Homo sapiens: one gene and its partner. The protein of the gene in region 2 interacts with the protein of the main gene of each other region in a pairwise test. Each region holds a gene or a part of one and is shown on either strand. Other genes may lie near its edges. The genes, in order: ZSCAN4 and HAT1.

Region 1 (16,345 bases), on a different chromosome or scaffold from region 2:
ACCCCTCCTTCTTCCACAACCTCAACCTAAGGAAGGAACACTGTCTACAAGTGGTGAGGATCCTTCCAGATAGATTTCCATTAATTTACATAAATTTTGCAAGATCTCCCTTAACTCACCTCTGCTTGACTTACTGCTGAGTAAATTCTTTCTCCATATTCCCTTCATGTAACGTGCTAATCAGTGACCATAAATCACACATGATTGTTACTGGTAGAATCAATGCTTTCAACTCCAACACGTCTGTCTCCACAGGTTGATGTATATATTTATCAACAGGGAGTTTTCTCCTCCCAAAAGTAATGCCATTTGCTCTATTTATTCAATGGCATAAGTGGTTTACTGTAATAAAAACTACTAAACTATAATCACAAAAAGGAAAACTTTTTATTTTTATAAAGCCTAAATAAAATGTGCCAGAAACAAAAATTAGAGATTCTTTAAAAATGCTATTGAGGTAAAAGTGAGTGATAAAAGTAGACCTGTATAAATACAAGTCTGTGAATATTCTGTACTCAGAATTTTGACATCTTTAAGTGTTTTAGCTTACTTTAAAGAACTACCATGCTGGGCGCGGTGGCTCACGCCTGTAACCCCAGCACTTTGGGAGGCTGAGGTGGGCAGAAAATCTGAGGTCAGGAGTTCAAGACCAGCCTGGCCAACATGATAAAACCCGTCTCTACTAAAAATAAAAAAATTAGCTGGATGTGGTGGTGCACGCCTGTAGTCCCAGCTACTCAGGAGGCTGAGGCAGGGGAATCACTTGAACCTGGAAGGCAGAGGCTGCAGTGAGCTGAGATTGCACCACTACACTCCAGCCTGGCCAACAGAGCGAGACTCTGTCTCAAAAAAAAAAAAAGGAAAAGAAAAAAAGAACTGCCAATTGTAAATTTGTAAATCATGTTTAATTATAGTTTATGATAGAAAATAAAAGAAACATAAAATTTCTTACAGAAGAATTTAACCCATAACAAAGTTTGAGCAAAGTAATACAAGCTACAATTAAAATAAGTCATTTCAATTTCATTTGAATGTGAGCCAAACATTTTATGTTTTTATTTTTTTCTCAGGATTATATCTTTTTATATGTTGTATTTTTTTCTTTTATCTGGCTATTAACAATAGTAAAGTGATTGATAACTTTCTCTTTTACATTCTATGTATTTAAATATCTTATTTAGATTATTTTAATTTGCAATTATTTTTCATTAATATTTCATTTTATTAAAAATTGCCTTTTTTCAGTGTTTACATATTAATGGCTTACTTATCCAAGATTGTAAAAATATACAAATATTTTTACCGCTGAGAGATTTGGTTTTTTGTTTGTCTGTTTTTGTTTTTTGAGAGGGAGTCTCACTCTATTGCCCAGACTGGAGTGCAGTGGCACAATGTCAGCTCACTGCAGCCTCCTCCTCCTGGTTCAAGTGATTCTCCTGCCTCAGCCTCCCATGAAACTGGGACTACAGGCTTGAGCCACCACGCCCAGCTAATTTTCGTATTTTTAATAGAGATGGGTTTCACCATGTTGGCCAGGCTGGTCTTGAACTACTGACCTCAAGTGATCCACCTGCCTTGGCCTCCCAAAGTGTTGAGATTACAGGCGTGAGTCACTACACCCAGCCTAAGACTATTCTTTACTTTGGGTTTTTTGTTGTTGTTGTTGTTTAACAGGCTGTCATTTGTCACCCAGGCTGGAGTAGAGTGGCACGATCTCAGCTCACTGCAGCCTCAACCTCCTGGGTTCAAGAGATCCTCCTGCCTCAGCCCCTTTTCTGCCCCTCACCCCCCACCCCCAATAGCTGGAACTACGGACGTACCACCACTTCCAGCTAATTTTTGTACTTTTTGTAGAGACTGGATTTCATCATGTTTCCCAGGCTGTCTCCAACTCCTGAAATCAAGTGATCCGCCCGCCTCGGCCTCCCACAGTGCTGGGATTACAGGTGTGAGCCACCGCACCCGGGATTGTTATTCTTCACTTTGAATCCCACATGTTATTTAAAGCTAAGACCTGAGGCAAAAAAAAATCACTTCTATATTTCAACTAATACTATTTTATTACTAGGTAATAAGTCCCAATATTTACATTTATGTACACATACACACACATTTCCTTTCTATACCATTAAGATAATGGTAGACCTTTATGTCAGGAAAATGCTATAGGCTGGGGGCGAGTGGCTCACGCCTGTAATCCCAGCACTTTGGGAGGCCGAGGCGGGAGGATCACTTGAGCCTAGGAGTTCGAGGCCAGTCTGCACAACGTGGTAAAACCATGTCTCTAAAAAAAAAAAAAAAAAAAAAAAAAAATTAGCTGGGCGTGGTATCATGAGCCTGTAATCCCAGCTACTTTCAGCTACTCGGGAGGCTGAGGTGGGAGGATTTCTTGAGCCTGGGAGGCAAAGGTTGCAGTGAGCCCAGATCCCACCACTGTACTGCAGCCTGGGTGACAAGAGTGACAACCTGTCTCAAAAAAAAAAAAAAAAAAAAGCTATTGGTAATTGAATTTATCTTTATTGAACAAATCCTCTTCATTGCATGCTTTAAATTTTGATTTGTTTAAATTTTATTGAATTGTAATAAAACGATTTTGAAATTACTAGAGAAGCCCAGGCGCTGTGGCTCACGCCTGTAATCCCACCACTGTGGGAGGCCAAGGCAGGCGGATCACCTGATGTCAAGAGTTCGAGACCAGCCTGACCAACATGGTGAAACCCCGTCTCTACTAAAAACACCAAAAAACAATTAGCCGGGCTAGCTGAAGGCACCTGTAGTCCCAGCTACTCAGGAGGCTGAGGCAGGAGAATGGCTTGAACCCGGGAGGCGGAGGTTGCAGTAAGCAGAGATCGTGCCATTGCAGTACAGCCTGGGCGACAGAGAGAGTCTCCGTCAAAAAAGAAAAAGAAGAGAAAAGAAAAAGAGAAAGGAAGGAAGGGAGGAAGGGAGGAAGGGAGGACGAGAGGAAGGGAGGAAGGGAGGGAGGGAAAAGAAATTCCTGGGCAGATGAAAGTGAGGGGTCGGGGGTCGGGGTCGGGCGCGGCGATGCCGCAGCTGCGGGGCTCGGTGGACTCGGCGAGCAAGAGCCCCAGGACGCTGCTGGCGGCGGGCGAGGAGCTGGGGCGCGGCGCGGGGCGGCTCTAGGCGCTGTGGCCGCTCAGCGTCTGGGACCCAGCGCCGCCCAGGTCAGGGAATCCTTGGTGTTCCCGCCCCGCAGCACCCGGGGCGGGGGAGGAGTCGGCGCGGTCGTGCGGCCGTGGAGGACAGCGAGACCCGGGGCTGCGGCTGCAGGCCGAGGGGCCCCTGGGACAGTGAGAAGCAGCGGCGGGAGCTAGTCACGGGGCAGGGAGCGCTCAGCGGTAAAGACGGCTTCATCTGACTCCAGGGCTGGCAGGCGGCCCGGATGGCATGCCGTCTCCTGCGGAGAATTCCAATTTCCCCCTAAATCGCTCAACAAGCGAGAAGGTTTTGGGATTCGAATTCAGTGGGGCAAGCGAAGTCGCCTTTCCTTCTTAAACAGATGGAATCCCTGGTCCACAAACGTACCCTGTGCCAATTTCATACAACACGCTATGGCTGCTGCGGATGAGAACACAGCAACTCTGCCAGATGAAAAGCTTCAAGGCTCTGTGAATCCAAGGTCAAAAACGCCAAAAAGGAAAGTCCTTTTCCAGGACAAGCGCACGCGTGCTGGTCGTGGAGCGCCCCCTCCTCATGGAGACCGGCCTGGGATTGATGTCCTTCATTAACAATGAGGCTAAACTGGGCTATTCCATGACTGACCAGGGGCAAAATAGGCTTTTAGCCAGCGGCATTCTGGGAGCTCTCCCCACTAAGAAGGCCAAGGGATGTGGGGTCTGAGAGCCTGGCAGTCCTCATGCAAAGCCGCTGCTGGCTGGAAGCATAGGGGTCTTTTACCTTTTGGGATCTCTGCACGATTAGAATAGTAAAGTGGATAGTAATTGCATATTGCACTCTGCTAATGCAAGCTACAGACAAAAGCAAAAAGAATCTAGCTGCCACTGTGCTGCTAGGATTCCATTTTCTGTAACTTCAGTTCTGATACTTTTCCTGGAGTGTATCTACTTGGCTTCTGGCGGTTCTTCCCATCCCAGCCACTCCAGCAGGCTAAATCCCGCAGCACACCCCTTACCATTTGTGTAGGCTGCTAAATACAGGGAGGCACCTGGTATCTCCAGTGTCTGCAGACACAAATATGTTTACACTTGGTGTCAAATTTTGTATTTTAAATTTTAATACTTTTTTTTTTAAAGCTCATACAAAAGCAGCCAGCAGACAAGTTCACTGACATCAGTCTGCACCTGTCAGCTCCTGGGTGAATCATTGTTCTTTTGTAAATGTGTGTTTGACCTAAAGTCACCCTTTTTCTAAAATTAATCCAAGGCCGGGCGCGGTGGCTCACTCCTGTAATCCCAACACTTTGGGAGGCTGAGGCGGGTGGATCACCAGATCAGGAGTTCGAGACCAGCCTGACCAAAATGGAGAAACCCCATCTCTACTAAAAATACAAAATAAGCTGGGCAGCCCACGTCAGTAATCCCAGCTACTCCGGAGGCTGAGGCAGGAGAATTGCTTGAACCCGGGAGGTGGAGGTTGTGGTAAACCGAGATCGTGCCACTGCACTCCAGCCTGGGCAACAAGAGTGAAACTCCGTCTCAATAATAATACTGATACTTAAAATATCTTTGCGAGGCCCAAGTAGGTTTACAGAAAATCATCTTAGGACAATTTTTTAATTTGAGAAAGTCACTTTGGCAGTTCTTTGCACACAATTTTGACAAGTGTATGTATTATAAGTTGTATTGTATTCATATTTAAAAGGAAATTGGGTAGTTTGCCTTTTGAAGAATGCGCTTTTTAAAAAGGAACCATATCAGATCCTTATGAAGCAGCCGATGCCTGCCATGGTTCCTACAGGTCCTGTACAGACTCGGGGCTTTGTCCAAGTCTCCACTAAACATGCTAAGCTTCGATGCGCCCTGGAGAATTTCCACGGGGTGATCCACGCACCTCCATGAGATCCTGCAGCTTGCTTGTATGACTGGAAGCATTGGATAAGCTTCGCGTGCTGGCTCTCCAGTTCTTTCCTTCTCTTTACGACTGTTGTAGCTTTTAGCTAATGGAGTGGTGCGGTCCAAGTGCGGCCACCTACGGGAGGTGCAGGGCTGCCTCGGAAGCTGGCAGGGGACCCCAGTCTTTGCGTTCATAAAGACATTTAGAACCGGATGAATGTTGTTCCTTTTTTGAAGTTGTTATTAAAGTAGGTGCAACAACCAAAAATCAATAAATAATAAATAAATTGACTAAATATTTTTTCTCAAAAAAAAAAAAAAAAGAAAAGAAAGTCACCAGGTGTGGTGGCTCACGCCTGTAATCCCAGCACCTGGGGAGGCTGAGGTGGGCGGATCACCTGAGATCAGGAGTTTGAGACTATCCTGGCCAACATGGTGAAACCCCGTCTCTACTAAAATACAAAAATTAGCCGGGTGTGGTGGCGCATGCCTTTAATCACAGCTACTCTGGGTGCGGAAGTTGCAGTGAGCCAAGATCGTGCCACTGCACTCCAGCCTGGGCGACAGAGCAAGACTTTGTCTCGAAAAAAATAGAAAGTTAACAGTTTTGTTTATTTTCCTACCAGGTTTTTATTATTATTATTATTATTCTAATTGAAATCACTGTTTCCTACATACTGAGGCGGATTGGCTTTGTCTTCTTGGAAACAAAGGTTATTTTCCTCACTCACACTGGAGCGGGGATACTCACCAGACACAAGTTGAGATGATGCTGGATGTAAACGGGTCATCTATTTTTACCAAAGGCAGCACTACCTGCCTTCCCAATTGATCAGAAAAGCATTTGATAGTTGTCTTTGTAATATCCTTATTTGATTAAATTACTATGTGGATTTCACATTTATTTTTATTGTTTTGTGCCTGTTTATTCTATGCCTAAGTTGGGGTATCACCAGGTCATTTCCTCCACCATCTGTGTTTCCCCAAGGATAAATCCTCCTGCTCATGCCCTTCACTCCTCCATTAGCCCATTCCCTAGAAAGCTGCTGGTTTTACACAGTGGCTGTGTGTCTTTGCCTTCTTAATGTAGCATTCAGAGTCCCACTCTGGAGCCAGGTATCAAATCCTAGCCCAGCCACTTACAGGCTATGTAGCACTGGCCAAGGTACTGAACTTCTCTGTGCCTCTGTTATTTTGATGTTAAAATGGAGTTATTTAGGATCTACTTTACAGGACTGTTGTGATGGAAATGGGTTAACATACAGAAAGCACTGAGAACAGAGTCAAATATGCCCTGACTGCTTAAAGGTTAGTTATTATGATCCCTGATGCTATTACTACTCTTACTGATATCATCGTGCCTCAGGTCTAACTGCTCCCAGAGTTACACACCAGCATGTCCAACAGCTGGCTGTATATCTGAACTCAAAAATCCAATAACCTCCTCCAAACAGAAATTGCCAGCTTTTCCCCAAACCTTTTCCTTACAGCTCCTTACAGAGCTCAAGGAACTCCTTGAGACTGCAGAAGCAGACAGGAAATGCTTTCAACCCACCACAAATTAACAACTGGCCTCCAGTGGTACTCACATTGTCTACATTTTTCATTGTTTTTTTTTTGTTTGTTTTTTGTTTGTTTGTTTGTTTGTTTTTGAGACAGAGTCTCACTCTGTCGCCCAGGCTGGAGAGCAGTGGTGCGATCTTGGCTCACTGCAACCTCGGCCTCCCAGGTTCAAGTGATTCTCCTGCCTCAGGCTCCCGAGTACTTGGGATTACAGGTGCCTGCCACCATGCCTGGCTAATTTTTGTATTTTTTTAGTAGAGACGAGGTTTCATCATGTTGGCCAGGCTGGTCTCAAACTCCTGACCTCAGGTGATCCACCCGCCTCGGCCTCCCAAAGTGCTGGGATTACAGGCATGAGCCACTGCGCCCAGCCCATTTTTCATTGTTGTAGCAGAGAAGTATCCCTGCTTCCATCAAGAGCCAATTTTCCTGTCACAGTTGGTTTAATGACATAGTTGGTGACAGGACCTAAACCACCAGTGGAAAATTGGCTCTTGATGGGAGCAGGGATACTTCTCTGTATGGAGTATATGTGGATGAAACTCCTTGGAGAAATGGACTAGTACACAGTCTTATAATGTGAGGATTCAGAACATAATTCCTAATGTGGGGAAGTCAAGCAGACATTTCATCAGTGGAGTACCAGGAGATTCAAACTCTGTACCCAACAGTGATAGGGGGACAATCTAAGCCCCAAGAGGCTGCATGCCTGATGGAGCAGATGAAACACATGGCTGTAATTAGCTCCCACCCCTTCGATACGTTCTCAACTCCACCAAAGCCTCAGCCTGTATGAGGGTGGAAAGTGGGGAGGGAGAGTGCAGGGAAGAAGGCACAGCTTCCACCACACTAGGTGACCAGGCGCTTCTCACCATTTTAACTCCTCCATCTCTCTCAAGCCTCATGTTAAGTCTATCAAACATCATATGCTTTCTCAATATAAAATATGCACCAATTTCTCCCTTTCCACTGATATAATCCTAGTCTCAACCCCTGTCATCTTTTTGATGGATTAGGAATGCCTTCTCTGGGTCCCGGGCCCCCTCTGTTTCACCAGCCTGGAATTGGCACAGGAGTCACAGCATTAGCCTTGCCCTCTGCCACCCTTGTAATTCATAAATCTCTGAAAACTTAAAAGTTTGAGCAAAAGTTTGTCATGTTTCTATGAGTAATTTATAATAAAACTTGATCAGAATTTGTGAGACTAACGTTTGTCTTTATATTTTCCTTTTTTTTTTTTTTTTTTTTGAGACACAGTCTCGCTCTGTCGTCCAGGCTGGAGTGCCGTGGCGTAATCTCGGCTCACTGCAACCTCTGCCTCCTGGATTCAAACAATTCTTCTGCCTCAGCCTCCTGAGTAGCTGGGATTACAGGTGCATGCTACCACGCCCAGATAATTTTTGTATTTTTAATAGAAACCGGGTTTAACCATGTTGGTCAGGCTGGTCTCAAACTCCTGACCTCATGATCCACCTGCCTCGGCCTCCCAAAGTGCTGGGATTACAGGCGCGAGCCACCACACCCAGCCTGTCTTTATATTTTCATTTAATGTGGACCTTGTTACATTTTACCGCAGATTTTGTATTTTTGTGTGTGTTTGTTTGTTTGTTGGTTTTTGAGACAGTCTACCTCTGTCGCCCAGGCTGCAGTGCAGTGGCACAATTTCAGCTCACTGCAACCTCCGCCTCTGTGGTTCAAACAATTCTTCTGCTCAGCCTCCTGAATAGCTGGGACTACAGGCACGCGCCACTACGCCTGGCTAATTTTTGCATTTTTAGTAGAGATGGGGTTTCACCATATTGGCCAGGCTGGTCTCGAACTCTTGACCTCGTGATCCGCCCACCTCGGCCTCCAAAAGTGCTGGGATTACAGGCATGGTTTTTTTTTTGTTCGTTTTGTTTTGTTTTTTTTTTAGAGACTTGGTCTCCTTCCATTTCCCAGGCCAGAGTTCAGTAGGGCGGTCATAATCCACTGTAGCCATGAACTCCCTGGCTCAAACAAGCTACACAGACATGCCACCATGCCTGGCTAACATTTTTAACATTATTTTTGGTAGAGACAGGGTCTTGCTTTGTTGCTCAGGCTAGGGATTCACAGAGTCTTGCTCTGTCTCCCAGGCTGGAATGCAGTGGCGCAATCTTGGCTCACTCTAGCCTCTGCCTCCCAGGTTCAAGTAATTCTCCTGCCTCAGCCTCCCAAGTAGCTGGGATTACAGGTGCCCACCACCATGCCCGGCTAATTTTTGTATTTTTAGTAGAGAAAGGGTTTCACCATGTTGGCCAGGCTGGTCTTGAACTCCTGATCTCAGGTGATCTGCCTGCCTCAGCCTCCCAAAGTGCTGAGATTACAGGTGTGAGCCACTGCACCTAGCCTGCAGAAATATTAATGTGTTTGTTTATGACCTGTTGACCCAGGACCAGTGATGGTATAGAACACTGTATTAGAGACATGGAGCTGGGGCTGGATGAAGATTCCATCAGTAATTCAATCAACAGACAAGTGTTATCCAATCACGTCTTTAAATCAATCACTGACATGGAGCTGGGGCTGGATGAAGATTCCATCAGTAATTCAATCAACAGACAAGTGTTATCCAATCACGTCTTTAAATCAATCACTGATCCCAGCCCCTATAAAAGGGAGCAGCCTTAGGAGGCACATCAGATAAACCCAGTGTGGAAAGCTAGTCACACATCAGCTCAGTGTTCGGCCCGGGATTACCCAGTCAACCAAGGAGGTAAGCTTCCATAATGGAAGGAAAATTTTGTGCCTTTGAGTGTGTATACATTTTGTGTCTTTGAGTGTGTATACATAATTTTGTGTCTTTGAGTGTGTATACATGTGTATGTAGGCATAGCTATTTCAGGAAAATTCCTAACTACAGAGATATGGGGGTCTCCCAGGTGTAGGGAATGGTCTTTTGTTACAACAGCTCTGACCCAAAAGGGCTTGATGTTGTGAACTCTGTATAAAGGCCTGGTGTGACTGAAGATTTTTCTTCAAAAAGTCTATCGTATGACTTTATGTTCTAGTAATTCTTTTTTTTTTTTCGAGACAAGATCTCTATCACCCAGGCTAAAGTTTAGTAGCCCCAATCACAGCTCACTGCAGCTTCAGCCTCCCCAGGCTCAAGTGATCCTTCCACCTTAGCTTCCTGAGCAGCTGGGACCACAGGCGCACACCACCACACCAGGTTAATTTTTCTATTTTTTGTAGAGGCAGGATTTTGCCATGTTGCCCAGTGTGGTCTCAAACTCCTGGCCTCCAGTGATTTGCCCACTTTCAGCCTCCAAAAGTGCTGGGATTACAGATGTGAGCCACTGTGCCCAGCTTAGTAATTCCTTTGTATTGCATTATATGAAATATGTAGCTGGGTGTCATTAGAGATCATAAAGCCCAGGATACAGACCCAGACCTGACGGGTAGCATGCCTGCGTCACAGTTTGTAATTGCCAGACTCCAGATTAGAGCTCCGGTAGCCTTGTTTTGAATTCCCAGGTTCTGGGAAATAAGCCATAATACTTTGCAGTCTTGTCTATGTGGGACGGAGTGCATGTCTCCAAGTGTGAACATGTGGTCTGTGTGTCATAGGGGAGAAAGGGTGGGTAATCCAAAAAGAGAACTTGGAGGGAAGTGAAATGAAGGGGAAGCCATGGGTTCCACAGGAAAAAAAAAAAAAAAGAGAGAGAGAGAGACCAATGTCCCTGGATATAGAGAACCAGCCACAACACCTAAGATGGAGCTTGAGAAGTGTAGAGCTGGCCCAGGAAAGCCTCGTAGGACAAGGACTCAGTGCTTTTCCCTGAGGGCAAAGGGGAGCCATCCAGAGAGTAGAGTGGGGTATGATGTGAGCAGATTAGCATTTTATAAACGTTGACTGGAAGCATTATGACAACTGGGTTAGGGAAAGGCAAGAATGTGTTCCATTGTCTCCTAGGAGATTTTACCAGGATCACCTCTGCCTTATTAACTGATGCGATCAGGGTAGCAGATCTGGTCTAATCAGACCAGATGAGATTAACACAAAGCAGGAAATAACATTAACTAACAGAAATCAGTTAGGTTTTTGTGTGTCCACGTATTACTCCTACCATTTTCTGATTTTATGGCATGAAATTTGCTTTTTTCAAAATTGCACAAATCTTTGAAATGTTAACCATATATAAAATTGGAGAAAAAACACAAAAATAGCAATGATATATTAACAGAAAAGGGATTAAATTCTTTATCCATTCAGGATTTCAAAGGGTGTGTCTCTAGTTGTCCAGATAATCTGATTTGGGATTAGAAATCAATTTCAAGCAATGCAAACTCACTTTTACTTCTGAATCCTAAACATCAGTAGGAAAGGACAGGGAGTAAAAACAGATAAACATAAAATAGTAGCTTTGGTTAAAGCAGTAAAGTTCTAAGGAATGGTAACTGTTAATGGGAAAAAAATTCAAGCAGAAAAGGTGCTAAGAATGTTTCCTAAGGAATGTATCCTTTCACAACACAGTGGGTGTAGCTGGTAGTGGCCTTGCAGATGTCTGTGCCTAATAAGTTTTCAGCCAGAGAAAGGTGTCATTTGTATGGATTCTGGCTTGTCTTTTCTATTTCATTCACTTCTTTCTCTTTTTCTTGTTTTCCCTAGCTTTATTGAGGTATAATTGACAAAGATTGTATATATTTAAGGTGTACAATGTGACACTTCTCTCTCTATATATATGTATACTTTGCAAAATGATTACCACGATCAAGCTAGTTAACATATTCATCACCTCACATAGTTATCTTTTTTTTTTTTTTTTGAGACAGAATCTTGCTCTGTCACCTAAGCTGGAGTACAGTGGCGTAATCTCAGTTCACTACAACCCCCACCTCTCAGGTTCAAGTGATTCTTGTGCCTCAGCCTCTCAAGTAGCTGGGATTACCGGTGCATGCCACCACACCCAACTCATTTTTGAATTTTTAATAGAGGTGGGGTTTCACCATGTTGCCAGGCTGGTCTTGAACTCCTGGCCTCAAGCGATATGCCCACCTCTGCCTCCCAAAGCACTGGGATTACAGGGGTGAGCCAATTATCTTTTTTATATCATGAGAACACTGAAAATCTAGCAAATTTCAAGCATACAATATATATTAGCTATAGCCACCATGCCGTACATCAGATCTCCAGAGCATATTCATTTTTTTTCCCTAGCCTGAGAAGGACATGGTGACATTTAATTAATTAATTTATTTATTTATTTATTTTGAGATGGAGTTTCACTCTGTCGCCCAGGCTGGAGTGCAGTGGCACGATCTCGGCTCACTGCAACCTCCATCTCCTGGGTTCAAGCGATTCTCCTGCCTCAGCCTACCGAGTAGCTGGAATTACAGGTGTGCACCACCACAGCCAGCTAATTTTTGTATTTTTAGTAGAGAAAGGGTTTCACCACGTCTCATCTCAAGTGATACGCCTGTCTCGGCCTCCCAAAGTGCTGGGATTACAGGCGCGAGTCACCGTGCCCGGCCACATATTTATTTTATAAATGAAAGTTTGCCATAGGCATAGTAGCTCACGCCTGTAATCCCAGAAAGGCTAGAGTGAGGAGCAGTCACTTGAGTCCAGGAGTTCAAGACAACCTGGACAAAATAGCGAGACCAAGTCTCGAAAAGAAAATTTTTAAAAAATTAGCTGAGTGTGGTGCGTGCCTGTAGTCCCAGCTACTCAAGACGCTAAGGCAGGAGGATCGCTTGAACCCAGGAGGCTGAGGCTGCAGTGAGCTGTCATGGCACCACTGCACTCTAGCCTGTCTGACAGACGGAGACCCTGTCTCAAAATAAATCAAGTTTGCACCATTTGATCAACATCTTCCCATATGCCCCACCCCATGCCCCTGGCAACCACCCTTCTACTCTCAGTTTCTAATACTTTATTTTCTGATGATGATGATGATTATTATTATTATTATTATTATTGAGACAGAGTTTCTGTGTTGCCTAAGCTGAAGTGCAGTGGCCCAATCTCAACTCACTGCAACCTCTGCTTCCCAAGTTCAACCCATTCTCCTTGCTCAGCCTCCCGAGTAGCTGCGATTACAGGCATGCACCACCACATCTGGCTAATTTTTATATTTTTAGTAGAGACGGGGTTTCGCCATGTTGGCAAGGCTGGTCTTGAACTCCTGGTTTCAAGTGATCTGCCCGCCTCGGCCTCCCAAAGTGTTGGGATTACAGGTGTGAGCCACAGTGAAAAGAGTTTTTTTGTTTTAATTTCAACTGCTTGTGATAACACAATATTACAATATTCAGTTCATTTTGGTTTATTGGCATTGTAATAGACATCTCCCTAAATTCACCTAGGCTAATATTTGGTGAATATTTTATTTTATTTTAGATTCAGGGAGTACATGTGCATGTTTGTTACAAAAGTATTCTGCATATTGGTGGAAATTGGACTTCTAGTGTACCTATTACTTAAATAGTGAACATTGTACCCAATGGGTAATTTTTCAATACCCATTTCCCTCCCAACTCCCCCGCTGGAGTCCCCAGCATCTGTTATTTCCATCCTTATGTCCATGTGTACCCACTGTTTAGCTTCTACTTATAAGTGAGAACATGCGGTATTTGGTTTTCTGTTTCTGAGTTAGTTCACTTAAGATAATGGCCTCCAGCTCCAACTATGTTGCTGCAAAGGACTAATTTCATTCTTTTTTATGGCTGCATAATATTCCATGGTATGTATTTCACATTTTCTTTATCCAGTCAACCACTGGTAGACTCTTAGGTTGGTTCCATGACTTTGCTCCTGTGACTAGTGCTGCAATCAAAATATGAGTGCAGGTGTCTTTTTTTATATAATGATTTCTTTCCTTTTGAGTAGATACTGAGCTGGATCAAATGATGGTTCTATTTTTAGTTCTCTGAGAAATCTCCATACTGTTTTCCATAGAGGTTAACTGATTTGCATCCCCACCAAATTTATTGAATACTCTTTGTAAACAAAATCAAGACTCTATAAATATGTTTGAAATATTTTCTTTCCTTATTTCACTGGTTAGGGAGCAATCCAATGTTTCATAGAGATGATAGCTCAAGCAGAAAACTTTTAACAATAAATTTTGTTGTAACTACTTTATAAAATATTTTTCACATCAAGTTTTTTTTTTTTTTTTTTTTAAGAGTCTCACTCTGTCACCCAGGCAGGAGCTCAGTGGCATGATCCTGGCTCATTGCCACGCCCACTTCCCGGGTTCAAGGGATTCTCCTGCCTCCACCACTGAAGTAGCTGGGTTTACAGGCACGTGCCACCATACCCAGCTAAGTTTTGTGTGTGCGTGTGGCTTTTTTTTTTTTTTTTTTTTTTTTGAGACGGAGTCTTGCTCTGTCAGCCAGGCTGGAGTGCAGTGGCGCAATCTTGACTCACTGCAATCTCCACCTCCCGGGCTCAAGCAATTCTCCCATCTCAGCCTCCTGAGTAGCTAGGACTACAGGTGCATGCCATCATGCCTGGCTGATTTTTGTATTTTTAGTAGAGATGGGGTTTCACCATATTGGTCAGGCTGGTCTCGAAATCCTGACCTCAGGTGATCCACCTGCCTCAGCCTCCCAAAGTGTTGGGATTACAGGCATGAGCAACCACACCCGGCAAGTTTTGTATTTTTAGTAGAGATGGTGCCTCACCATGTTGGCCAGGCTAGTCTCGAACTCCTGACCTCAAGTGATCCGCCCTCCTCGGCCTCCCACAGTTCTGGGATTATAGGAGTGAGCCACTGTGCCCAGCCAAGGATATTTCCTAATAGTTCTAGTTTATTAAGTGCCTTTTTCAGGAATAAACATTGGCATTTAAACATTTTAAATGCATTCATTGAGATGATTTTATTATGTTCTTGTATCCATATCCCGTTAACGAAGTAAATTGCATTGATTTTTGAATTTTAACCCAAACTTCCTGCATTTTGGAAATGAACACCATTTGCGATGTATATGTGAGTAGATTTTATTTTCAAATATTTTGTTTTGGATAATTTTAATGTATTTGTAAAATTTTGTTATCAGGAAGTGCTGACCTCAGTAACTAAAGTGGGTAGTGCTTCCTCTTATATGCTCTGGGAGAGTTTATGTTAAGTTATAATTATTTCTTTGAATTCATCCATAGAGCCATGTAGGCCTAACTTTTTGGTTGATTTGTCTTTAATTATGCCAGTGGTGCAATTAATTACTCATCTCTTTTCTATTTCTAGCTTGCAGTTTTAAAGAATCCACCAACTGTTGAAACAAATCCCTAGAGACACAAGGCAAGAGACTGAATCATCAAAGTAAAGTCTCTCTGAGAATTATTGCTAAGAATGGCTTTAGATCTAAGAACCATATTTCAGTGTGAACCATCCGAGAATAATCTTGGATCAGAAAATTCAGCGTTTCAACAAAGCCAAGGACCTGCTGTTCAGAGAGAAGAAGGGATTTCTGAGTTCTCAAGAATGGTGCTCAATTCATTTCAAGACAGCAATAATTCATATGCAAGGCAGGAATTGCAAAGACTTTATAGGATCTTTCACTCATGGCTGCAACCAGAAAAGCACAGCAAGGATGAAATTATTTCTCTATTAGTCCTGGAGCAGTTTATGATTGGTGGCCACTGCAATGACAAAGCCAGTGTGAAAGAGAAATGGAAATCAAGTGGCAAAAACTTGGAGAGATTCATAGAAGACCTGACTGATGACAGCATAAATCCACCTGCCTTAGTGAGTACAGGGTTCTAACTTCTGGGATGAGAGACAAAGGAAAGTAAGGAATAAATCACAGTCAGTTAGAGTTGTCTGGAAGTTAGAGAAGCTATTGGAGGTCCAGTTATTAGTCAGCTCACACTCTCCCACCATTCTCACAAAGAATAATCTTCAATGTCCTAAGTTCTCAAGAAAAAAAGCAAAAAGGTATATATCTGTTTATTCTGTAGGACATATAGGAGCCAAACATATTGATGTTTGATTAACTTAATTTTAGTCTGCATAATGGCAGACTCTGAGAAATTGACTTTTTGGCATGATATCAGCTCACTGCAACCTATGCCTCCCAGGCACAAGTCATTCTCGTGGCTCAGCCTCCAGAGTAGCTGGGATTACAGGCGTGCTCCACCAAGGCCGGCTAATTTTTGTATTTTTAATAGAGACAGCGTTCCACCATGTTGGCCAGGCGGTCTCGAACTCCTGGCCTCAAGTGATCCGCCTGCCTTGGCCTCCCAAAGTGCTAGGATTACAGGTGTGAGACCAGCCTGAAATTGACATTTAAATGAAGACATCAAGGTTGAGGAAGAAATGTCTTGACAAGAGCTTGTTCTTCTGTCAGGGAACTCTAATCAAGAAAGACATTCTAAAGAAGCAATTACGGTAGATCCTTATTCTCAGAGCCCATATTTGCAAAATTGCTAAAATTTATTTGTAAGCTTAAAATAAATACCTGAGGCATCTTCTCCGTCATTTTCAGATATGTGCAGGTGGTAAAATATTTGATTTACCTTAGGTGCATGTTTCCAGGTGAGGTTGAACAAGGCCACAACCTCACTTCCTATTTTGGTTCCTACAGTGTAAATAAGTGTCCTTTTCACAGTCTATTTAGTGGCACATTTTTTTTTTTGCTTTTTATTGATAACTTTGTTGTTTAAAGTGACACTGAAGTAAAATGCTGAAACACTGTCTAGTCTTCCTAAGTGCAGGAAAGTTGCTATGTATTATGGAGATAATACATGTGTTGGATCCTCTGAGTTCAGGATTAATCAATAATAT
Region 2 (15,872 bases):
AAGACACTCCGTTCAACAAATGGTGCCAGGACAGCTGGATATCCACATCTAAGAAGATGAACGAGATACTTACCTCACATCATACACAACAATTTATTCAAAATGGACCAAGGACCTCAATGGACGTCGGGTGTAGGGAAGGAAACTGACTACAAATGGACACGAAGGATCTTTTCAGTGATGGAAATGTTCTAAAACAGGCAGGTTTACTAAAAACCACTGAACTGTCCACTTAAAATGGGTGAATTTTATGGTCTGGAAATTATACCTCAATAAAGTTGTTTTAATTAAAAACTCTACTAGAGACAAACGCTTAAGCAAGTATCTCTTGTAAAACATTTTTTTGTTTGTTTGTTTGTGAGACGGAGTCTCGCTCTGTCACCCGGGCTGGAGTACAGTGGCGCGATCTTGGCTCACTCAAGCTCCACCTCTGGGTTTACGCCATTCTCCTGCCTCAGCGTCCCAAGTAGCTGGGACTACAGGGCGCCCACCATCACGCCTGGCTAATTTTTTTATTTTTAGTAGAGACAGGGTTTCACCATGTTAGCCAAGACGGTCTCGATCTTCTGACCTTGTGATCTGCCCGCCTCGGCCTCCCAAAGTGCTGGGATTACAGGCGTGAGCCATGGCACCCGGCCACATTTTTTCAAGTACTAATAGATGAGGTACAAGCTTATCCAATGTCAGTTTTTCCAAGTCTATTTCTTTCTAAATTGGTTGAGAAAAACAACTGCATTGCAGCCAGGGGTGGTGGCTCACGCCTGTAATCCCAGCACTTGGGGAGGCCGAGGCCGGAGGGTCACAAGGTTAGGAGTTCGAGACCAGCCTGGCCAATACGGTGAAACCCCGTCTCTACTAAAAATACAAAAATTAGCCGGGCATGGTGGCACGCACCTGTAGTCCCAGCTACTTGGGAGGCTGAGGCAGGAGAATTGCTTGAACCCGGGAGGTGGAGGTTGCAGTGAACCAAGATCGCACCACTGCACTCCAGCCTGGGGGACAGAGGGAGACTCCGTCTCAAAAAAAAAAAAAAAAAAAAAAAAAAAAAAAAAAAAAAAAAGAAACTGCATTGCTAATACTGATTTAAACTAACATTTAGTGTATGTGTGTATGGCTGTGTGTGTGTATGTGTGTGTGAATCTGTGTGTTTTTTTGAGACAGAGTCTCACTCTGTCACCAGGGTGGGGTGCAGTGGCAGGATCTCGGCTCACAGGTTCAAGTGATTCTCCTGCCTCAGCCTCCCGAGTAGCTGGGACTACAAGTGCATGCCACCACGCCTGGCTAATTTTTTGTATTTTTAGTAGAGACAGGGTTTCACCATGCTAGCCAGGATGGTCTCGATCTCTTGACCTCGTGATCCACCTGCCTCGACCTCCCAAAGTGTGTGTGTATTTTTTAAGACAGGGTCTCGCTCTGTCCCCCTAGCTGGAGTGCAATAGCGCAATCACAGCTCACTGCAGCCTTGACCTCCTGGGCTCTAACGATCCTCTCATCTCAGTCCCCCAAGTAGCTGGCTGGGACCATAGGTGTGTGACACCATATCCAGCTAATTAAAAAAAATTTTTTTATAGAGACGGGAATCTCCCTATGTTGCCCAGGCTGGTCTTGAACCCCTGAGCTCAAGCAACCCTCCAGCTCAGCCTCCCAAACTTCTGGGATTACAGGCATGAGCCACTGTAACCAGCTGAGTGAAATTTTAAGTAACTTCTATACCCTCAGAAAAGTTTAGGAAATAGGTATCATAGGAAAATGAGTTACAGTTGAGAAAAACTACTCAGGCCACATTTTTACCTGAAATTTTCACATAAGTCAAAAAACATGCAAAAAAATTTCCAGTTTTAAATAAGCCATTATGACTGATAATACTTTGTTTGCAGCTTAATATAAGGAACCAAGTCACCACTCAATCTTTAAGCCCTTTGAAAGTGTCAGTCTGAAATGAACTTAAAACGACACCCAATAATGTATGACATCCTTCAATTCCTTTGTTTCTATGCTACAAAGATAAGCAACATATTTAAAGATAAAATTTTCTTGAATTTAAATCTACAATGATATGCAGGATCAAAAACTGAGTTTTTTCTAAATGTAATACATCATCTAGCAATCGTTTTTTTAAAGCTTCTCATATTAACATACATATTAGTGATAAAAAATCATATTCTAAAGAAGGGAAATGAGATAACAGCACAATCACCTAAGTTATAAACAATTCACATAATATTCTAAAAAGCTATATGGCACATCCCAGAACAATAAAGTACATTTAAAGGACAAATATAATTAGCTCTTAATGTACTACTGATAGATAATAATACTGATATGTATTCCAGCCCAGAATCGATTTCTATTGCCAAATGCAACTCCTTTCAGAAGTCCAGAGGAAACAAGATCATTGATTCTATTTATAAAGTTATACAACTGAGATGTATTCAAATGCTGTACATCTTAAGAGAATAGTATCTTCAAAAGGCAGATGGTATACAAGGAATTGTCTGCCAGTATTTTACCTTAAAATTGAGTGCAAAAAAATGAAAATGGGTGGCAATTATACCACAAACACCCATCCATTGGAAGTAAGATATAACTTAGGCCATCTACAGGAAGTTTCAATTATTATTAGATCTGGCTATCTGTCAAGTAAGCAAAAGGCCATCTCAATATAAAGAATATTCTGGATTGCAAATGGAGATCCAGAGCCTGCAAAAGAACCACAAAGCTAAAAAAGCACACACAATAATGGAGAAACAGGCAACTAAATGACAGAAGAGTAGAAAAATCTGCAGTTTTGTTTTTTAAGGACTGGGTATGGAAATCTAGGAGAAATAAATATCTTAATGAGAACAGCTGATAAGGCATTTTTAGTATTTTTAAATGCTGAGAAATGTTAATGCTGAAAATAAAGGCCAATACCCAGTTGTCAAATTCAGAAGTCCTTTAGCATGTTTAGTCTTTTCTTTTTAGAGACTTCAGTTTCTAATGAATAACACCAATGAATAAAGGCTACCATTATTGATGACTCTTCACTGAGATTTAAGAAATAAAATTCTTTATCTGCTAATTGGTGCTAAGTATCAAGGACTTTATTGGTTGGAGTAGACAGAAGAAAGTGGTTAAGAGGCTTCAGAGAAACAACCCCTGCTGGCACATTACCCACTAGAGTAGACAAAGACTACTTATGTGAACTCCACATTAAAATCACCAAAAATGTCCCTTCATGTAGCAGCAAGTCTAAGCTCTATAAGTTAATAGAAGCTAAACAATTTTCTGCTCAACTAAAAGAAGTGACATAGTCTGTATTATGTTTCTACAATTTTATAAGTCACTAAGCTAGTGAAGTTGTCGCTTAAACAATTTATAACTTTTGTTATAAACGAAGTTTAGTAACTACTACTTTATCTCCTGAGTTTCCAACCCATTTAACAGTAGCAGGAAAGTCAGATGAAAAGATAATTCACCTCTATAAATGTGAAACTCCCTTTTAAAGACAACGTGCTTTCCCTCCAGTTTATTATTCTACAGATCAATTCACTGTTCTGAAGCAACTTCAATTTTATTTACCTTGGATTACTAGTCTATATAAAGAAGGATGAAACAATCTGCTTACTAGCCTATTTATGTGGTTGCCAGTCTTACAACCATTTTTTTTTTGGTGGGGGTGGGTGGGTGGGAGGTGGTGTCTTTAAACAAAATTCCCAAATAGCATTTTTTAACATGTTAATGTTTTAGTGCATGTTAAATAGTATAGTTTGTAACAAAGATGTATCCAAATTCAAACTTGTAAGATTAATAAATTTTAATACCAATTTGCATGTAACTATCTGGTAAAGTATTTTTCAATAAAAGAAAAAGGTAACTTTCAGTTTCATCAGCAATTTTATGAACAACAAATTTGAAAGTTAGAAAATAACATAAATATTCCTTGGGCCACTTTGTTTTTTGGTGGATCACACTTTAACATATTATCTGAAACTCCATCTAATAATGCCTTCTCCTTTTGAAGAGTCAAGTCGAGTAAGTCGAGTAAGTCGTCTTTCCTTCTCCTAAGCATTCTATTCATACTACTACTTCTATGGCTAATCCATACTGAAAGACATTTCCAAAACAAATAGGCCTACATTTCACCTTATCTACTACTGTTGTGAAGGCATGCATTTTAGGAATACAAAACACACACTTTAGGAAATGTGTATTCTATTCAAGAAGTATTTACCTTGACTTTTTTTCTCAGTAAAGTTTATAATATTCTGCCCCTACATGTAAATTAAAGTGCAGGCTGCCTCTAAATAATGCAACTGTTTGCCAAATAAAGTGAACAAATAAGTTATACCATACTTTCAACGTATTTACGCCTGACCAAGACTTCCCCATATATATTCAGCTCATTATCTTCAATTTGTTCCATTATGCACTTCACAGTTAGGGATGTAATCCAATCCCCACAAAGGCTTATGCTCTAAAACATAAACTTAAGCCATCTTTAGATGGCTTAAACACCCTAGGAAAATGTTGCTGTTTAAAATAGTTATTTCTGACAAAAATAAAATCAATCAGTAAGAAGACATTTTTAGAAAGGCTCTTTCAGTAACAAATCAAATTTTACATACCTGTAATATCAAGAACTGTAGGAAATTCAGTGTAGTATCTATGAACTGTTTCAAGAAGTTGAGCACCATGGCCTTGACCTTGAAATGGAGTCAAAATCAGCATCTGACTACAGTAAAGAAATTATTTTAAAATTAAAATATCATAACATGACCAGTTTAAAACCTGCAGATCACTATAGTATTACAAACACTTTAAAGTTTGTGTGATCTTTTTTTCAATCCACCTTTGAGATACCCAAAAATTATCAAGATACTCAAAATTAGTTTAATCTTCTACACTGTTTCAAAGGGAACAATGAAATAAATCAGTACATAGCCCATGAATAATAGTGATTTTTTTTTTAAACAAATCAACACTATTATAACAAGTATTGGAAACTTCAGCAGTTCCTTCTTCTGAAATAAAAGACAAGGCACGTGTTATACTGCCAATTACCTTACACGTGGCCGGGTTTTGTCTGGGTACACATAGTAATTATAGACTGTCATGTAGCCTACGGTCGCAAAGAGCGTAGCTCCATCCTTATTATACTTCTCAAATCTGCAGATAAAACAGAAAGCCAAGCAGGTCAATTACAGTCGCGCTCCCATGCAGTGTCCATTTTCTTTTCCATTCTCTGACTGAATTTTCAGTGTCAGCAAGCTACTCTGTGAGGGCCCAATGGGTACACCTGCTATGTTCTGAATGTACAATTCACTTAATTGGTGTGCAGCAACTTGGATAAATCAGACCTCTTTACATCACTTCAGTGCACTTGCCTATTATAAAGATGAATAGGTGGCAAGTAAAAGAAAACACAGGCAAAGCTCATTTTACTGTTTAAGCCTACATTCAGGGCCCTAACGGACAACAGCATTTAATTCAGCTCTATTCTCAAGGTCTCCCAAAGCATAATGAAGGAAAACTCAAGCCTCATAAACAATAGTTTTTCTTTCCTGGGAAAAATATCATTATACTGTCCCAATAATTGGGCTGCCACAATTAAAATGCTGGCTTTGTGGAGGTAATAAGGTCTACTGTTGCTTTAGAACTGTACTTACACTAGAAAGTAGTGCCATCTTTCATCATCCACGTCAATAAAGCTAGCAGTTTCAATAAACCACATCAAAAAGGTCTGAAGCCTTTCATGATATTCTCGAAAGCCTCTACATGTCATGTCAGCCTAGGGAAAAAGCCAGGAAAAGTCAGGTGAAACTCATCACAAAGGTAAGTGAAAGTCCGCAGAACACAAAATTATCCTGTGGGAAAATGTTTAGAAGTCTCAGATTAAGATGTGAACATAGATACAGACATACACACAAAATAGATCTTGGTTTATAATGCTGATTAAAACTTGTTTACTGCAGTTAGAATAAATCACTGACAACAAAACTACATACAGGTTTCAGGCAAATAGAACTTTACTCAATAAATATTTAGATTTATCTTTACCTTATATATCTGAAAGGTAAAGTTTTCTCCTCCTGTTGGACTGAGAACTGAGTAGGTATGAAGTAAGGTTCCGAATGGCTTGAAATCAACTTCCTTTTCCAGTAAAGAAAGGAAATCATTCGTGTTTGTGCAAAATCCAGGTGGAATGATTTGTCTAATTTTGCCCTCAACATCATCTGCCTAAAGAATAAAGGATATAAAAAATTAATAACAAATTCGACTTTAAGTTGAATATGGTTTATTTCTTTAAAACTGACAAAACCAACACAAATTACAAAACTTTGGTTGAAAACTAAAGAAGTAAACACACAGCGAATTGGAAAAGGATGAGCTTCCTGTGCACAAACTGCATCACACAAAACTGAGATGAGCATAATATAAAAGTAAATAAGAGAAGGCAGGTGACCTGATACCAAGTACAATAATAAGGGCAATGCTATGGACATTTCCATTATGCAGAAACAGCTGACTATACCCCTTCATGACAGTCTGAACTGGCCAAGGCAAAAGGTTGCTTATTATTTTATATGTGTCAAAGAAATCATATTATCCAAGACATGAAAAGATCACCAGCAGTGGTGAGATGAGACTAGAGTCTGACCAAATGAATAGCAATCTCACAACTAGATGGGTCACAATTCCCTCATATGCCAAACTCAAACTAAGATGATAACTTAAAAATATACATATTTAGGAAATAACATAAATTATATGAATGGATATATCATTCTTTTATCCTTAGAATGTGACACAATTCTTACAGACCTGGATTTGTGACAGTAAAAAAGAGACAAGACTGGACAACAAAACTAAACTCGGAGATTAAAATTACCCTTGTTAAACAACCTCTATCAATGTTATCAGCTGAGCAGACTTCATAATCCTTTTCAAAATCCCAAAAGACCACTTGATTGAATACATTTACTACTTCTCTTTAACCATGAATATTTGATGAAGTCTTACAATAAAGTATTGCTGCTTCTCACCAGGCAATAAAACTTAATGAATTGGTCTCAACTTAACAAAACCTTATCCCTCAATACAGTCCCTAAAAGCCTGACATTACATTCAACAAAATGAGCTTGTATTCTATTCAAACTTTTTCCTGAACAATGAGGCCAGGTTTTTACTTAATGGAGTTTGCCGTGAGTTCAGCTGTAATGTTTGTATTGTATCTATTTCCACAAGGACTGACACAAGAACACTTTGTGTTAACTTACTAAGCAGCTCTTTCATACCGTTTACATGCATGATGGGTATTAGTTCTAAACCAAGACCCTTGCTACTTAGCATTCAAAACAGGGAAATTAAGATGCTTAGGACAAAATACACTACAAAAGGCTAATACAACATGCTACTAATTCCTATCCTTTCAACCATCTTTTAACTAAGTAGAAGCAATGCACCTGCAGATGAATAGCACTTTATTATGATTCAGTTACATTTCAGGATAGAGAACCAGTGATGACGTTTATCACAAACAAGTTTTATTTTCAATGCTCTGGTACCACCAACATTTATATATAATTTGTTTATAGGTATAAAAAAGACCTATTATTGAAAATATAGCTCTTCAGCATTTTGCCCAACAGTTTATTTCTAATATGTACATCAGTCCTTGCAACTCATTCACACTCTAGATCAAATAAACTGCATTTCATAGGACAGTTTTTGCTTATTTTTAAAGTACTATTTGATAAATATTTTTCCTTGAAATTGCTAACATGAAGAGGCCATCGTAAGCATATTTTATAGTATCAGTACAATTTCAACAGCTATCAAGGAAACTGTCATAATGAGGGATAGCTGTAATAGATGTGTTGTGTAGCAATTAAAATCCAAAGTAGTGATGAGTAAAACAGTATAGTATGTTAGTTAAGGTTTTTAAAAAGCCAAGAAAAACTACTTTTAAAAAGGGATTTATAATCTATCAGTTTAAAAATCACTTTAAGACTTTCATAGCATGTATAATTTTAACTTTTAAAAACTTTCCTTATGTCCTGTCTTCTCAAGAAGGCATTGCAAATCACTTTACATATCTTGTATCAAATCTACTTCAAAGACTTCTCAGAAACTCTAAGTTTCAAGTAGCACTTTTGGTGGCGGGCAGAGCAACCAGAAGGTTTGAGCCCAACAAAGTTGAAAAAGGGCTTTCAGCCTTCAAAGGATGTCTATTTCCTGTAATAAATATCTTCAAATAAAATAGTTTGCTTTGTGTAAGTTTACACATTAAGAATTTTTACGGGGCAAAGGGCAATTTTAAAGCAAGGAATCTTTATATAATTATATAAATATATATTTATAAATAGTTATGTATATAAATATGTATCTGATATACTTACATAAAATATACAACTTAAAACCAAATAGTTCTTCAACCTAGAATTTACAACTTCGCTTCACTAAAGGGAAAATGTCTGCATTTCTCTATTAAATGGATTCTGCTTTAAGAAAAAAAAAAATCCTGACTACCATGTCTTAGAGATCTGTACTCTTTTCTCAAATATATAATTTAGTTTAATTTAAAATATTCGTCTTTCAGATTGGATTACTGATCAGATAATAAAATCAGCACAAGAGCAAGACCTCATTTAATCATTGTTAATTGAATAGAGTTAAAAATGAACAGAAACTTTTTAATTCCAATGTTTGTGGCTAAAAGTTTAGAATCTATTTCTGAAGATCACTGAAAAATTCCCTGTATTCCAGAGCATTATTCTAAACTTCAACTAAAATTATACAGAAATATAGAAAGGGTAAGAAATTCAGCTGACTAGACACACCAGGGAACTAGAATTTCAAAAAAATTTTTAAAAAGACACCAGGCTGGGCATGGTGGCTCACACCTATAATCCCAGCACTTTGGGAGGCCAAAATACGCACATCACCTGAAGTCAGGAGTTTGAGACCAGCCTGGCCAACATGGTGAAACCCTGTCTCTAATAAAAATACAAAAGTAGCTGGGCGTGGTGGTGTGCACCTGTAATCCCAGCTACTTGGGAGGCTGAGGCAGGAGAATCACTTGAACTTGGGAGGCGGAGGTTGCAGTGAGCCAAGACTGCGCCACTGCACTCCAGCCTGGGTGACAGGGTGAGACTCCGTCTCAAAAAAAGAAACCAGAATACAACCTGATATATTTAATTAACAAAGACATCTCTTACAAATGGTTTCCTAACGCTTGGTAATTTATTTTTAAAAAGGAAAGTGCAAAAGTATTCTAGTTAGATATTCTGGTAGGTGGGTCATTATGAAATATTTTTAGATTGTATACTATTTAACTATGGTCATTTCAAGTTCCAGTGTTCTGTACTTTATTACACATGAACATGTTCATATGGAGCAATTTTTGCATTTCCTCATTATTGAATAAAGCGATATGCCTGATAATTAGTAATCTATTTTTTTAATGTTTATATTTGTATTTATACACATTTGAAAACCCAATAACCTCTCTAACATCTTATCTTAAGCAGCACCATTTGTCTAAATTTGTCTAGTTATTTTTGAGATTGAAATTAAAGGCACGTTAAGTAGGTGGTAACATGTTGTTCTTTACTTGGCTAAAGTGGTACATAGACTTAACTATAATTCTAAGACTACCTAAAATATGCTAAAAAAAAAAAAAACAAGCAAAAGAAATTCTGTATCTACTTAATGTTCTCAATCTCATGTTCTCTGATAATATTTAAGCTTTAACTACAGAATGTATTGTTGAGAAATTAAAAGTGTGAACTTTTTCACTAATGGAAAAACAAAGGTCATATTATGTTTATTTACACTGCATTAGTATTTTGCTACTTGAACTAAACAAGATAAACTTGTCAATATATACTTTTAAAGCTCTTTATGATATTTCATAAAAAGTATTACTTATCAAGAACACCATCACAATTTGAAATTTTACTAGTCTACCAAAGATTTTTTCGAAATTTCTGGAAGTATGTAGGATTTTCCTAGAAAGAGGCTAAACACTCCATAAAATTTTTAAAATCTGCTCTCATATCCTCTCAAATTCAATCCAATTAGTGGGACACTAGGATAAAATAACTGAAATTCACAGTTAATACAAACTTTATCCATCTATTTCAACTTCCTGTACCAAACTTTTCCCAGAAATGCTAGCAATTAGCAAGACAACAATCTTAGTTACCCACTACTTCACTAAAAGGCAATGAAATTACCCCCAAGAAAAGGCAGGAGGTTTTTGTTTTTAAGACAAGAGTCTTGCTCTGTCACCTAGGCTGGAATGTAGTAGTGTAACCATAGCTTACTGCAGCCTTGACCTCCTGGGCTCAAGAGATCCTTCTGTCTCAGCCTTCCAAGTAGCTGGGACTACAGGAGCATGCCATCATGCCTAGCTTTTGTTTTCGTTTTTTGAGACAGAGTCTTGCTCTGTCACCCAAGCTGGAGTACAGTGGCGCGAACTCGGCTTCCTGCAACCTCCACTTCCCGAGTTCAAGTGATTCTCCTGCCTCACCCTCCTGAGTAGCTAGGACCACAAGCACGCACCACAACACCTGGCTAATTTTTGCACTTTTGGTAGAGATGAGGTTTCACCATGTTGGCCAGGCTAGTCTCAAACTCCTGACCTCAAGTGACCTGTCCACCTCGGCCTCCCAAAGCGCTGGGATTACAGGTTTGAGCCACCACGTTCAGCATTTTTTTTTTTTAATAGGCAGGGTCTTATTATGTTACCAAGGCTGGTCTCAAATTCCTGGCCTCAAATGATCCTCCTGAGTCAGCCTACAGAGTAGCTGGCATTACAAGCACAGAGCAGGAGGTGTTAATAAAAGCAAAGGTCAAGGACAACCAGATGAAAAAATCATCAGTGTCTGAATAATCAAGTTTATTGTATTGTAAAATTCAGAATTATGTTTCCTTTAAAGATGGTGGCTAGTAGAGATTTTATAGGCATCTTAATTGTGACTGAAGAATTTTAGGTGCAACTAGAGCATTCAGCTTGGAAAAGTAAAAGAATGGATGATTAAAAATTAATGTAATGACATAATCCTAATAAGAAATAACTTCTAAGCAGATGTTATGGCTGCTGACCATCTATGCAGTATGATCTGCAAAGCCCTAATATATTAGACTCAAACCTAACATCCAAAATAAAATTTTTTTATTGTTTCCACTTAAACCTATTTCTTCTATAGTTTTCCCAGTTAACAGTACCATAATTGAACTTGGGCAATGGGGTTCTCGTTTTTTTTCTTCATCTGTCACATCTAATTCAACAGCAGACCTCCAAAATGTTCCTTACTCTGACAACTAAGTCCAGTGTCACCTCTAACACTGCAATGTTCCGGTCTCTTCTTTCACTTTTGCCCTATACAGTGTGTTCTCTGCACAGCAGCCAGAATCATATTTTAAAAATATAAATCACATTGTTTATGACCTCCACCTACTTAAGAATGCCTCTAAAGAATGCCAACTACTCTTATTTCTTGCAAACACCTATCACAGAACACAAGATCCTATATGATGATCTAGCTTTGCATCCCCTTCAACCATCTCCTACCCCTCTCTCCATCACCACAATGATTTAACCCTGGTAATCTTTCTGGACTACAAAAATGCCAAAAATGCTGTATTTTTAGAGCCTTTGTATCTTAGTAAGCTTTACCCTCAGATTATAACATGGCTGGTTCCTCCTTTATCATTCAGAAATGAGCAAAATGTATCTTCATAATACTGCCTGAATTTAATTTGTGTATTTACTATTTTGTTTACTGACTGTTCCTCTTGGCTAGAATGTAAGCTCCATGACTTTGTCTGCCACTGTATCGCTGGCATCAACAACACAGAAGGCACTATGGAATGAACACTCACTGCAAACTGAGATAGAAGAAGCAAGCCCATGACCCACATATCCCCTACCCAATCGTTTTTAATAAGGGGAAAAAAGTCTTTGTTTGAATACGCAATATAAATGATCTTTGACCACAAAGCAAATAAGTAACTCTACAAAGAGACATTATAAAAGATTGATTCCTTATTCCTAACACAGTATTTCTAAATGGAAAAACCTAATTTTCAAGAATGGAACAATTAGATGTCAATGCAAATACACAGCTATTTTCACTGCATGAAATATTTAAAAGATTTATCTATAACTAAATCAATAGTTCCTTTGGAAGAAATCAATTCAGTGCTATCAGCTGCAACTGTAAAAAACAAAAACCCTCCAACAGTGGGTTTACACACAAGGAAAAACATCACCTGCATTTTTAATAAGAATATCTAGCTGGGCTTGGGTCTGGAGAATTTAGCAATCTACATATTTGATTATGAAAAAACTCTATTTTAATAAATGTGTTAAATGCTAGTTTATCTAAGATTACATCTTTTCAAACATCAAACCACTACAGTATTACTCAGAATCACTTTTGTATCTGCACAATTTCAAAAGTTATCCTGGGAAACAAACTATATAAAATAAAACAAATATTAAATGTAGTTACATATTATTTATCTGGCAAGCTCAGTCATCTCAAACATGGCTGGGAAGTGGGGAAAAACACACAAAAAAACCAAATAGAACTCAAAATATTTCTAATACTAAAGTTGAATAATGAATATGAAACTACTTCAGATCTTTTTCATGCTATGCACAATTCATATTATATGAAACTATTTCAGATCTTTTTCATGCTACGCACAATTAGTTTTATAGATGGGGCATAGGGTTGGCAAAAGAGGTAAAGTCAGAAGTTAATGTCAGTTTAAAGTCCTGAAAAAGTTGGTGGCATTGTTAATGTTTTAGGAACTGCTACTTCTGCAAAAGAAAGTTATGACATACAGTATGAAGTAATCAGATTCCATCAAGCTTACCAATATGGTATTTTTAACCATAAGGGGTTTGCTAGTGTGAAGCTCCTTACAATGATAGCAGTAAACTGGGAGCACATGGCATAAAACACAGGAGAAGGCTGGGTACGGTGGCTTGTGCCTGTAATCCCAGCATTTTGGAAGGCCAAGGTGGGAAGATTGCTTGAGGCCAGGAGTTTGAGGCCAGTCTGGGCACTATAGCAAGACCCCGTCTCTACAAAAAATTAAAAATTAAAAAAATATTTTTTTTAATGAGGGGGAAAAACACATGGTCAAAAGGGGAAAGATACCTATGTAACAAACGTGCAAGTTCTGCACATGTATCCCAGAACTTAAAATTAAAAAAAAAAATAACGGGAGAGAGAGAGAAAAAGCAGTAAGCCCAAGAGCCTGGATCCTCTTAGAACAGGTCATAAATATTCCTAACATCTTTTAATCAGGATATTATTATATATTATGCATAATAACACTAAATAATCATCTCCTAGTACAATACTGATTATTTACTAGTTGTATGACTTTGGGCAAAACCTTTAAATATAACAAATCCCTCAAAATTTAAATAATAAAAAAGGGCCAAGTAAGTCAGTTCCAGTAATGAGAGGAGGTTTTAACCAAAAATATAGATGGGGCATAGGGGTGGCAAAAGAGGTAAAGTCAACAGTTAAAATCAGTTTAAAGCCCTGAAAAAGTTGGTTTAATTGTTAATTCTTTAGGAACTGCTACTTCTGCAGAGGAAAGTTATGACATACAGTATGAAGTAATATATTTCATTTTCCATACTTGTGTCTAGCACAGTATTACCAACAGTATATCAGATATAATTTACTAAAACTTGCTGGATTAATAAGTGCAAAGAAAAGAGATTTTGCTATAAGAATTAACTTTCAATTTTATAAATATGATTTAGTGACAAAATGGGATTTAATCTTTAAAAAAATCAATGGTGAAGTTTCAATGCCCTTAAATGAGGAATGCTCGGAAACAGAACAAGCCTAAAATATAATTTTCTTAAGGCCCTCAAAGATTCATGTCCATCCCACATGCAAAATACATTCATTCTATCCAAACATTCCTAAAAGTCTCAACCATTACCATATCAACTCAAGCCCAAAATCTCATCTAGATATAGTCAGTTCAAAAGTCACACCTCTCATCATAGGTAAGACTGTGGGTATGATACATCCTAGGGCAAAATTCCTCTCCATCTATGAACCTGTGAAATTAGAAAACACAGTATCACTTCCAAAAGACAATGGTAGGACAGGCATAGGACAACAGTTATAGAATCTCTCATTCCAGAAAAGGAAATGGAAGGAAGAAAGGAGCCACTGCCACCAAGCAATTTCAAAATTCAGCATGGCAAACTCCATTAGGTTTCAAGGCCTAAGAATAACTGTGGCCTGCAGCTCCACCCTCTGGACCCAAAGCTTTGCCCTCAGAGTCATTCTTCCACTTTCTTTAAAGGTAGCACATGTTGGCAGCTGAGCAGTTTTATTAGCCTGTTTCCTGCCTGTGAAATTTGGAGAGTTCATACAGCCTTCCTTCATTTTGTCCTGTCAATCCAAGCTGCACTATAAAGTTTTAATTCTCAAAACCCTTGAGTCGCCTGTGTACGTCATGAGGGTTCATACCATTAGACAAGAGGGTCCTCCACAAATGTTCCCCAGATCTACATTCCTAGCTTTTTGCTGAGACAACTGAGGAGATCCATGAGTCACGTGCCTAATCCCTTCAGCACTAGCAAAAGGTTATCCTGTCACACTCACGGCTTTCTCTCCAGAACACACTTTCCACCTTCCTGACAATGAATATCCTAACTAGTGTCTTCTACAATCTGGATAGGTTAAGAATTTCCCAAATCATCAAGTCCTGTATCCTTTTTGTTTAACAGTTCTTCCCTCAATTTATCTCTTTCATCACTTTACTATAAGCAGCCAGAAATCAGGCCACACCTCCAATACTTTCCATGAAAACCTCCTCAGCTAAACATCCAAGTTCATTGCTTACAGTAAGTTCTCCTTTCCACAGAACTGCAGGACATAACTCAGCTAGGCTTTCTGCCACTATAGAACAAGGATATCCTTTTCTCCAGTTGCCAAATACATGTTCCTCATTTTATTCTAAGCCCTCACCAACCAGAGGCAGTTCTTTTGTTTGTTTGTTTGTTTTTTGGAGACAAGGTCTGGCTCTGTCACTCAGGCTGGAGTGCAGTGGCACCATCTTGGCTCACTGCAACCTTCACCTCCCGTGCTTAAGCCAGTCTCCCACCTCAGGCTCCAGAGTAGCTGGAACTACAGGCACACACCACCACACCCAGCGTGTGTGTGTCAGCGTGTGTGTGTGTGCATGCGTGCGTGTGTGCGTGTAGAGATGGGTTTTCGCCATACTGCCCAGGCTGGCTTGAACTCCTGAGCCCAAGTGATCTACCTACCTTGGCCTCCCAAAGTGCTAGGATTACAAATGTGAGCCACTAAGCCTGGCCTTTTTTTTTTTTTTTTTTTTTTTAAAGACAGGGTCTCACTGTCACCCAGGCTGGAGTGCAGTGGCATGATCATACTTACCTTACTGTAGCCTCAACCTGCTGGCCTCAAATGATCCTCCTGCCTCATTCTCCTCAGTAGCAGAGGCACTTTTTTTTTGAGACAGAGTCTCGCTCTGTTGCCCAGGCTGGAGTGCAGTGGCGCGATATCGGCTCACCGCAACCTCCGCCTACCGGGTTCCGGTGATTCTCCTGCCTCAGCCTCCCGAGTAGCTGGGATTACAGGCATGCGCCACCATGCCGGGCTAATTTTTGTATTTTTAGTAGAGACGGGGTTTCACTATGTTGGCCAGGCTGGACTCAAACTCCTGACCTCGTGATCCACCTGCCCTGGCCTCCCAAAGTGCTGTGGGATTATAGGCATGAGCCAACGCATCCAGCTCATGTTCGTGTTTCTACCAAAACTAAGTTTATGACTATATATATATTCTCTAAGATGATACAGGTGTTCTCTCCTACA

The links.
Region 1: the proteins of HAT1 (region 2) and ZSCAN4 interact in binary tests that used the Homo sapiens proteins (3 or more experiments, as listed by UniProt).

What each region holds. Positions count from the first base shown.
Region 1 is NC_000019.10:57,661,235-57,677,579, forward strand, and holds the start of ZSCAN4 (zinc finger and SCAN domain-containing protein 4), read left to right. Parts: upstream 1-7,700; 5' UTR 7,701-7,969; intron 7,970-9,010; 5' UTR 9,011-9,333; intron 9,334-14,806; 5' UTR 14,807-14,911; coding exon 14,912-15,307; intron 15,308-16,345. UniProt on the Homo sapiens protein: Embryonic stem (ES) cell-specific transcription factor required to regulate ES cell pluripotency. Binds telomeres and plays a key role in genomic stability in ES cells by regulating telomere elongation.
Region 2 is NC_000002.12:171,955,685-171,971,556, reverse strand, and holds part of HAT1 (histone acetyltransferase type B catalytic subunit), read right to left. Parts: intron 6,220-15,872; coding exon 6,040-6,219; intron 5,771-6,039; coding exon 5,649-5,770; intron 5,149-5,648; coding exon 5,044-5,148; intron 4,715-5,043; coding exon 4,608-4,714; intron 1-4,607. UniProt on the Homo sapiens protein: Histone acetyltransferase that plays a role in different biological processes including cell cycle progression, glucose metabolism, histone production or DNA damage repair. Coordinates histone production and acetylation via H4 promoter binding.